2 linked regions of the Homo sapiens genome follow. The protein of the gene in region 2 purifies or fractionates together with the protein of the main gene of each other region. This does not show direct contact. Each region holds a gene or a part of one and is shown on either strand. Other genes may lie near its edges. The genes, in order: SNAP23 and STX19.

Evidence for each region.
Region 1: the proteins of STX19 (region 2) and SNAP23 purify together in Homo sapiens (affinity purification with mass spectrometry; 3 studies listed by BioGRID and IntAct, with this or other methods). This does not show direct contact.

What each region holds. Positions count from the first base shown.
Region 1 is NC_000015.10:42,530,076-42,533,863, reverse strand, and holds the end of SNAP23 (synaptosomal-associated protein 23), read right to left. Parts: intron 2,452-3,788; coding exon 2,386-2,451; 3' UTR 806-2,385; downstream 1-805. UniProt on the Homo sapiens protein: Essential component of the high affinity receptor for the general membrane fusion machinery and an important regulator of transport vesicle docking and fusion.
Region 2 is NC_000003.12:94,018,293-94,022,117, forward strand, and holds part of STX19 (syntaxin-19), read right to left. Parts: intron 207-3,825; exon of another isoform or gene 147-206; intron 1-146. UniProt on the Homo sapiens protein: Plays a role in endosomal trafficking of the epidermal growth factor receptor (EGFR).

The sequences.
Region 1 (3,788 bases), on a different chromosome or scaffold from region 2:
AATAGTGTAAACAGAACTTTTATATGCACTGGGAAACCAAAATTCATGTGCCTCACTTCATTGCAATACTAGCTTTATGGTAGTGGTCTAGAACTGAACCCTCAGTATCTGAGGTATGCTTGTATTAATCTGCATTTACAGACAAATTAAGGCACAGAAATGATCTTACAGTCACTTCAGCTAGAGTGAAAATTCAGATAATGCCTCAGCCCATGCTTCTAACCAATCATACTGTGAGTGTAGCATGCTGGTATTCTCAGAACTATTTCCTTTATCCAGAACAGTGCTAAAATTTTTTTTTATGGTAAATGGTTTTAGGAAAGGCATTTAGGTAAAGCACAATCCTCCGTTTTACACCTTACTTTACATATTTACCATCCCTGCCAAACCACTCATTTTGACATGGAGCATTTCTATTACAGAGGGTGTAGTTGCATCTCACTTTATTTAAATATTTTCCTCTTTAGCCTTTGAAAGCTCCCACATTAACTGTATCTTCTCCAGTGAGTTGTAGTTCTCACACAGAACCATTACCCTTCCAGTCACTAGTGTATTTAAGCTCAAGTGAGTAAGACTAGTAATGATTAAAATGAACCTCACAATAAATTTTTAGCAAGGTAAGTTTAAGTCCCATCAATATTTTCAATAAATACTGGAAAGATGCTAAAGGCAGCTTCCTGCTGTAGTGTTTCTTGATGTATGGATCTTTGCTTTATTAATTTGTTAAATGAGAGCTGATGAAACTATTTTCCCCCAAATAACAGTCATAGAAACATGTTACCTATTTGAAAGAACAATACCATTAGTTAGTTAAAAAATTTAATTGTAAGGATCAAGCAGTGGTTATTGGTGAAACCAATACACACTGACAGCTTTGAAGTGTTCAGATGCTAATTTTAAAATAAATGTGACAAATACCAATCAGATGTTCATAACACTTTTCAGGATCCACATCAACTTGATTATGGACATAGTTCAATACACAAGGGTAAGAGAAAGAGTGTGTAATCACCAATAATTAAACCAGAGGCATAATTTTTTCAAATAATTTTTAGTTACAGAATAAATTCTAACTTTTTAAAGTCTAAAGCTACATAAAACTCAAAGCAATCTATTTTTCTACCTGAGGTCAAAATGACTTTCCTTTTTCCTAACTAAACATAATTCTTAGCATTGAGGTAAATCTGAATTCATGTGGTATGCTTTGTCAAACTTTTCCAAAAAATTTTAAGCCCTGCTTTAGAGAGAAATTCTCATGTTACACATATATATTTACATATTTTTTCTTCAAAGACTAATGACAATGTATGATGTTAATAGGCCTGTAATGGAACCATGATACTACTAATAATATGAAATAAAAAGCCACTCATTTATATAAAGTGTTCCTGAATGGTGCAATAAGAAATGGGATCACAGATTTATGTACATATATGAATCACTAAGAGTTCAGAAATTAAGCTCACTTTAAGAAAACTCAGCCAGGCACAGTGGCTCACGCCTGTAATCCCAGTACTTTGGGAGGCCAAGGCGGGTGGATCACGACGTCAGGAGTCCAAGACCAGCTTGACATGGTGAAACCCTGTCTCTACTAAAAATACAAAAATTAGCCGAGCGTGGTGACACACGCCTGTAATCCCAGCTACTCAGGAGGCAAGGCAGGAGAATTGCTTGAACCAGGGAGGCGGAGGTTGCAGTGAGCCCAGATCGCGCTATTGCACTCCAGCCTGGACAAGAGAGCGAGACTCTGACTCCAAAAAAAAAAAAAAGAAAGAAAACTCATTCTATTTTTCTCTTTGGAGCAGAGGTTGCAAAACTGTGATGCCTAACAAAAACGTTGTGTATAAAAGCTCCAAAACCAAGCATTAGCCTAAATTGGCTATAACTGCAACTTAAATCAAAAACTATATCCAACTAGATCTTCGTTGTGGCTATGCAACTTTTTGCTTTGTGGCCTGAAGGTTTTTACTGAGGTAACAACCTCTTATCTCTTGTCCTTCCCTCAACCACAAAAGCAAAAATAAACAACAACAAAAAACACCTCTACAGCTTCCTTCTTCATGGCTGTCTTTGGCAATGCTTCCAAATCTTGAAAGCAAAAGAACCTGCTGAAGTATATGAGGAGGATGAAAACACTAAACATGACATATGAAAACCAATCTAAGCGTATGAATTGAGAAAGAAAATACTAGAAGGAAGGCAGAGCAGCAGTCGGCCCTCAACAGAAAACAAAAAAGAAGGAGGGCTGTAACTGCTCTGGCCCTTCTTCCATATTATCTCCCAATTAGAAGAGCGTGGAACCGAAAACTTAAACTCTGAAAAGGTAATAACTTTCAAGGAGGAGCTACGGAAGTGAATAAATGATAAAGAAGAACAGCAGTAGCTTTAGCTGTCAATGAGTTTCTTTGCTCTGGCATTGGCAATATCAATACGATCTCTGTTGGTGTCAGCCTGAAAAACAAGAAAGATATCAGCTTTACAAGGTAAGTAACTCTAATAAAAATTAAACTTTTTACACTTGGAGTAACTGACACACCAAGAAAATCCAAGAAACCACGTGAAGTTACATTACAAAACTCATGTTGGGCAAGAAGTAACAGAATATGAAATTCATTTGGAAAACCCCTGGTATATAAACATGACAAAGGTGTAACATATAAGACCTTGCCAATATTTCATAAATTCTATAACGCATTTTTTCATAGTTTAACATGCCTGAAACTGGGATGCATCCTGTAATCAATGGCATTTTTTGATGCAATGAAATATGAAAGAGTGCTCTTCTCTGTTAAAGATCTGGACCTTGTGTGAGTCCTCTGAACTGAATCATAGAATCTCATCTGGATTCAGACACCCTAAGTCTAACCTGGAGAGACTGAAATAACCTTTCCAAAGATCTTTGAAACGAATCTATTACCATCCTCACCAACATCTGAATTAAAATGACAGGTAAATATAGCCTAAACCCAGACTGCAGCATTTAAAGCATCTTGTGAACCACTGTTTCAATTAAATCCATCAAAAGTGATTTAACAGAGAGCCAAGCTTAAAAACTCACCCTAAAGTTCACTGAGATTTTAATGAGGTATGACTTTCTTTTTTTCCTTTCTTTTTGAGAAAGGGTCTCACTCTGTTGCCCAGGCTGGAATGCAATGGTGCAATCACAGCTCACTGCAGCCTTCAACTCCTACACTCAAGCAATCCTTCTGCCTCAGCCTCCCGAGTAACTGGGACAATAGGCACATGCCACCATGCCTGGTCAATTTTTAAATTTTTTTAGTAGAGTCGAGGTCTTGCTCTGGTCTCAAACTCCTGAGCTCAAGCAATCCTCCTGCCTCCGCCTCTCAAAGTGTTGAGATTACAGGTGTGAGCTACCACGGTTGGCCAAGGTATGACTTTACATGTGACACATCAAAACACTGAAAACAATTTCGCTTTCACTATATTTATATCATGTAAAGTTAAGGGGGAAAAAAAAGAATCACAACTTTCTTTCACTCACATGACTCTATTTCGTGTGTCCACTCCATAAGAACTATTCTGCAGAACAGATTTTCACCTACGGACTCTTTCATGAGATGAGGATTCAGGAACTTAATTTATTTTTAGTTAACAAAATAGGCTGATGTGGGAGGAACGCTTTAGCCTAGGAGGCAGGCTGCAGTGAGCTGTGATTGTACCACCACACTACCCTAGGCGACAGAGCAAGACCCCATTCTCAATTAAAAAATTAGTTAACAAAATAAAACTCATTTGGGAGAGAAAAAAACACGCTCAAAAGCTAAAGT
Region 2 (3,825 bases):
TAGAGATGGAGTAAATGGGAACCATCAGGATATATTTTTGAAACTAGAAGCAATAGGACTTGATGATTTTAACCCATCAGCACTTAACACAATCATTTCTTGAGACACTTTGAAGAAAAGTATTTCTCCTGTTTTTTTTCTCTTACCTTTTTGGCTCTTCCTTTATCACTATTTTCTTTTTCCTGGCTACTCCTTATCTCCCCCACCTGTAAATATTGGAAGATTTTAGACTGAGTCTCATTTTTATCCATCATCATTTTTTAGTCTCATGGCATTAAATGCTGTTTGTAAGCTGATGACCCAAATTTGTATCTCCAGTTTAGGTTGCTCTTAAAAAACTGCCTACCTGACAGCTGCATTTGAATGCCTCTATCCAAAATGAGCTCATAATCTTCCTGTGAACCCGTAAACTGCCCCATCTCTCTTCTGGCAACTCTATTTTTCCAGTTGCTCAGACCAGAGACTCAGAAGTCTTTTTTTGTTTGTTTTTTGAGACCGAGTCTCACTCTGTCCCCTAGGCCGGAGTGCAGTGGTGTGGTCTCGGCTCACTGCAACCTCCGCCGTCCGGGTTCAAGCAATTCTCCTGCCTCAGCCTCCCGAGTGGCTGGGACTACAGGCATGTGCCACCACGCCCAGCTAATTTTTGTATTTTTATTAACGACAGGGTTTCACCATGTTGGCCAGGCTGGTCGCAAACTCCTGATCTCAGGCGATCCGCCCTCTTCGGCCTCCCAAAGTGCTGGGATTACAGCTGTGAGCCACCGCGCCTGGCTGGAAGTCATTCTTGACTTTTTTTTTCTACATTTCATATGCAAGCACAGCAAATCTTGTCAACATCTCTTTCAAAATGTATTTGGATCTAGCCACCTCTTACCATCTCCCTGGTTCAAGTCCCTGTTATTTTTGTTAATTTTTTATTTTTGAGACAGAGTCTCCCTCTGTTGCCTAGGCTGGAGTGCAGTGGCACAATCTTGGCTCACTGCACCCTCCATCTCCCAGGTTCAATCGATTCTTCTGCCTCAGCCTCCCGAGTAGCTGGGACTACAGGCACATGCCACCATGCCTGGCTAATTTTTGTATTTTCAGTAGAGATAGGGTTTCACCATATTGGTCAGGTTGGTCTTGAACTCTTGACCTCATGATCCGCCCATCTTGGCTTCCCAAAGTGCTGGGATTACAGGCATGAGCCACCGCAACTGGTCAAGTCCCTGTTATTTTTCATCTTGATTGTTAACGATAGTCTCCTAAGTGTTCTCCTTGTTTCCTTTTTGCACCAACTACCCCCCATCCTGCCCCCACCACAAAACCTCTGGTCTTTTCTTAACACAGAATTCAGAGTTAAAATGTAGGTCAGACCATGTCATTCCTGTGCCTAAAATCCTCCTTTGGCATTATCTCTTAGAGGAAAAACTAGAGCCTACAAAGCTCCACAATGACTTCACCCCTTCTGTTACCCCTCCGACCTCACCTCCTACAACTCTCCCTTTCTCTGCTTCAGTCTCACTGTCCTTGCTGTTCTCACACAAATCTGGCACCATCTGGCTTTAGGGCCTTGGCACTTGCCTTCTCTTCTATTTGAAGTGTTCTTTCCCATGTAGTATGTGACGTTTTTCCCCAACCCAGTCCTTACTGAAATGTCACTCCTGAGTTAGGATGTTCTTTGTCACCCTATTTTGAACTATACCTTCTTTCAACTCTCTGACCCTTCCCAGCTTTATTTTTCTTAGCATTTTTCACTATTTAACATACCATGTATTTTACTTATTTATATTAACTTAATTGTCTACTTTCTCCTCCCAGTATTAACTCCATGAGATCAAGGGTTTTTATTCATTCTGGTACCTCATAGAGTTAATACTTAGAGGAGAAAGTAGAGGGTCTTTATTCTTTCCCAGCACCTTGATGAGTCTTATATTTACTTGAGTTCTTATGTTGAGATCTTGATATCTTAGATTTACTTGAGCTCTTAATATGTGCCAGGCACTAAGTGTGTTTTATGTTCTTATAAGAACAAGTATTGTCATGATCTCTATTCTATAGATAATGAAATTACGATCTCAGCTTTAGTAATTGAACCATGTTGTCAGCTAGTGGTAGAGTTGAGATTCAGATTCTGGCAGTATAGTTTGAAGGACTCAACTCTTTATACGACAGTATAGCATACTAGAGCATAGTAACTTCACTATGACATAGCATAGCTTTACTATGCTATGAAGGTTTTTCAGTGGTGTTAGATCATTTAGGGTGAGTTCTGAAAAGAGGCAATTAGGTCAGTTAAGTGGTTGGGAAAAGAGCCAGATCACAAGGGATAAGACCTTGAAATCTGTTTGTGTCAGGAAAAGGTGTTTTATAGATATTAAAAGTTTATTCGGAAACATTTGCTGTATTACTTTATTGCCACATGACTATATTGCTGAGCATTTTAAGTACCGGTGGGAAACATTTAAGAGCAAGTTTTTGTTGCTGAAATGCACTTAAAGCATTCTACTATTTATTTCACCTATTTTAAATACTTAATTCAAATAGCCGGTAATCTTTTGTTTTTGCCACTGATTTGCTATAGTAAAGGTAAAAAAGTTCAGTCAGTACAATTTATGTAAATAGGGGACTTCTAAGCTGGAAGGAGATTCCATACGCCTCTTCCTCTGCATATTTTTATTGTCTATATTCTACTTTACTGGCAAGGAACAGTTTCTCTACCTTCAGAGTAGAGCTAACCAAAGCTAGTGTTTCTATAAGATCCAAGGAAAAAAATGAGCTATGAATGATACTAAACCTGGAACAATTATGAAAGGAAGATTAGTCAGGAGGAATATTAGACGATACTATAGAAAGAATTGCCAGTTTTAGGTGTTAAAAAGTTGTTTTTGTCTTTCGTGTTTAATATTATTATATATATATATATATAATTTTTTTTTTGAGACAGGGTCTCGCTCTGTTACCCAGGCTGGAGTGCAGTGTCATGATCTCAGCTCACTGCAATCTCCACCTCCTGGGTTCGAAGCGATTCTCCTGCGTCAGCCTCCCGAGTTCCTGAGACTACAGGTGCCCATCACCATGCCCAGATAATTTTTGTATTTCTGGTAGAGACAAGGTTTCACCATGTTGGCCAGGCTCATCTTGAACTCCTGACCTCAAGTGATCTGCCCGCCTCAGCCTCCCAAAGTGCTGGGATTACAGGTACAAACCACCATGCCTGGCCAAATATTGTATAAAATATTTGATGCTTATCCAGGTATAGATACTTAAAGACATGTAAAACTATTGGGAAGTAATGTGGAAACTTTTTACCATGTGGCAACTTTGTGAAAGCAGAATTATCACCCATGTTTTATTATATACATCTGATAAGAACTAGTCTTCTTTTCAGTATAGAGAAAATTTGATGTTAAAGTAGGTTGGCTTAGTAATTTATCTTGTATAGCTTCCTAGTGTTCATTTTGTGGTTTAGTGGTATTTATGACTCCCTAATCTATAAGCTCTTTCTAGTATTACTATATTGATGCTGAAAATAAATTATTCCCCAAAGTGTTGAAGATACCATGTCGCATTTAATATAGCCATAAGCTTTTTAAATAAGCTTTTTAAAAATGTTATTTTTTCCCTCAAATTAATAATGCATGTACACAGGTTAACAAGTCAAGTCATGTCAAGGCTTCTAAAGATATATATCTGACCCTTACCTGCCGTACCACATCCCCTTTCCAATTCTCCATTCCTTAAAGACAGTCATAAAGGCAGTCATTTTCAGCTCCTTAGCTATATGTTGCATCTAAACTCCTGTTTCTAGGTAATTTGCATGTGTAGGTATTTTTGCTTCTTCAG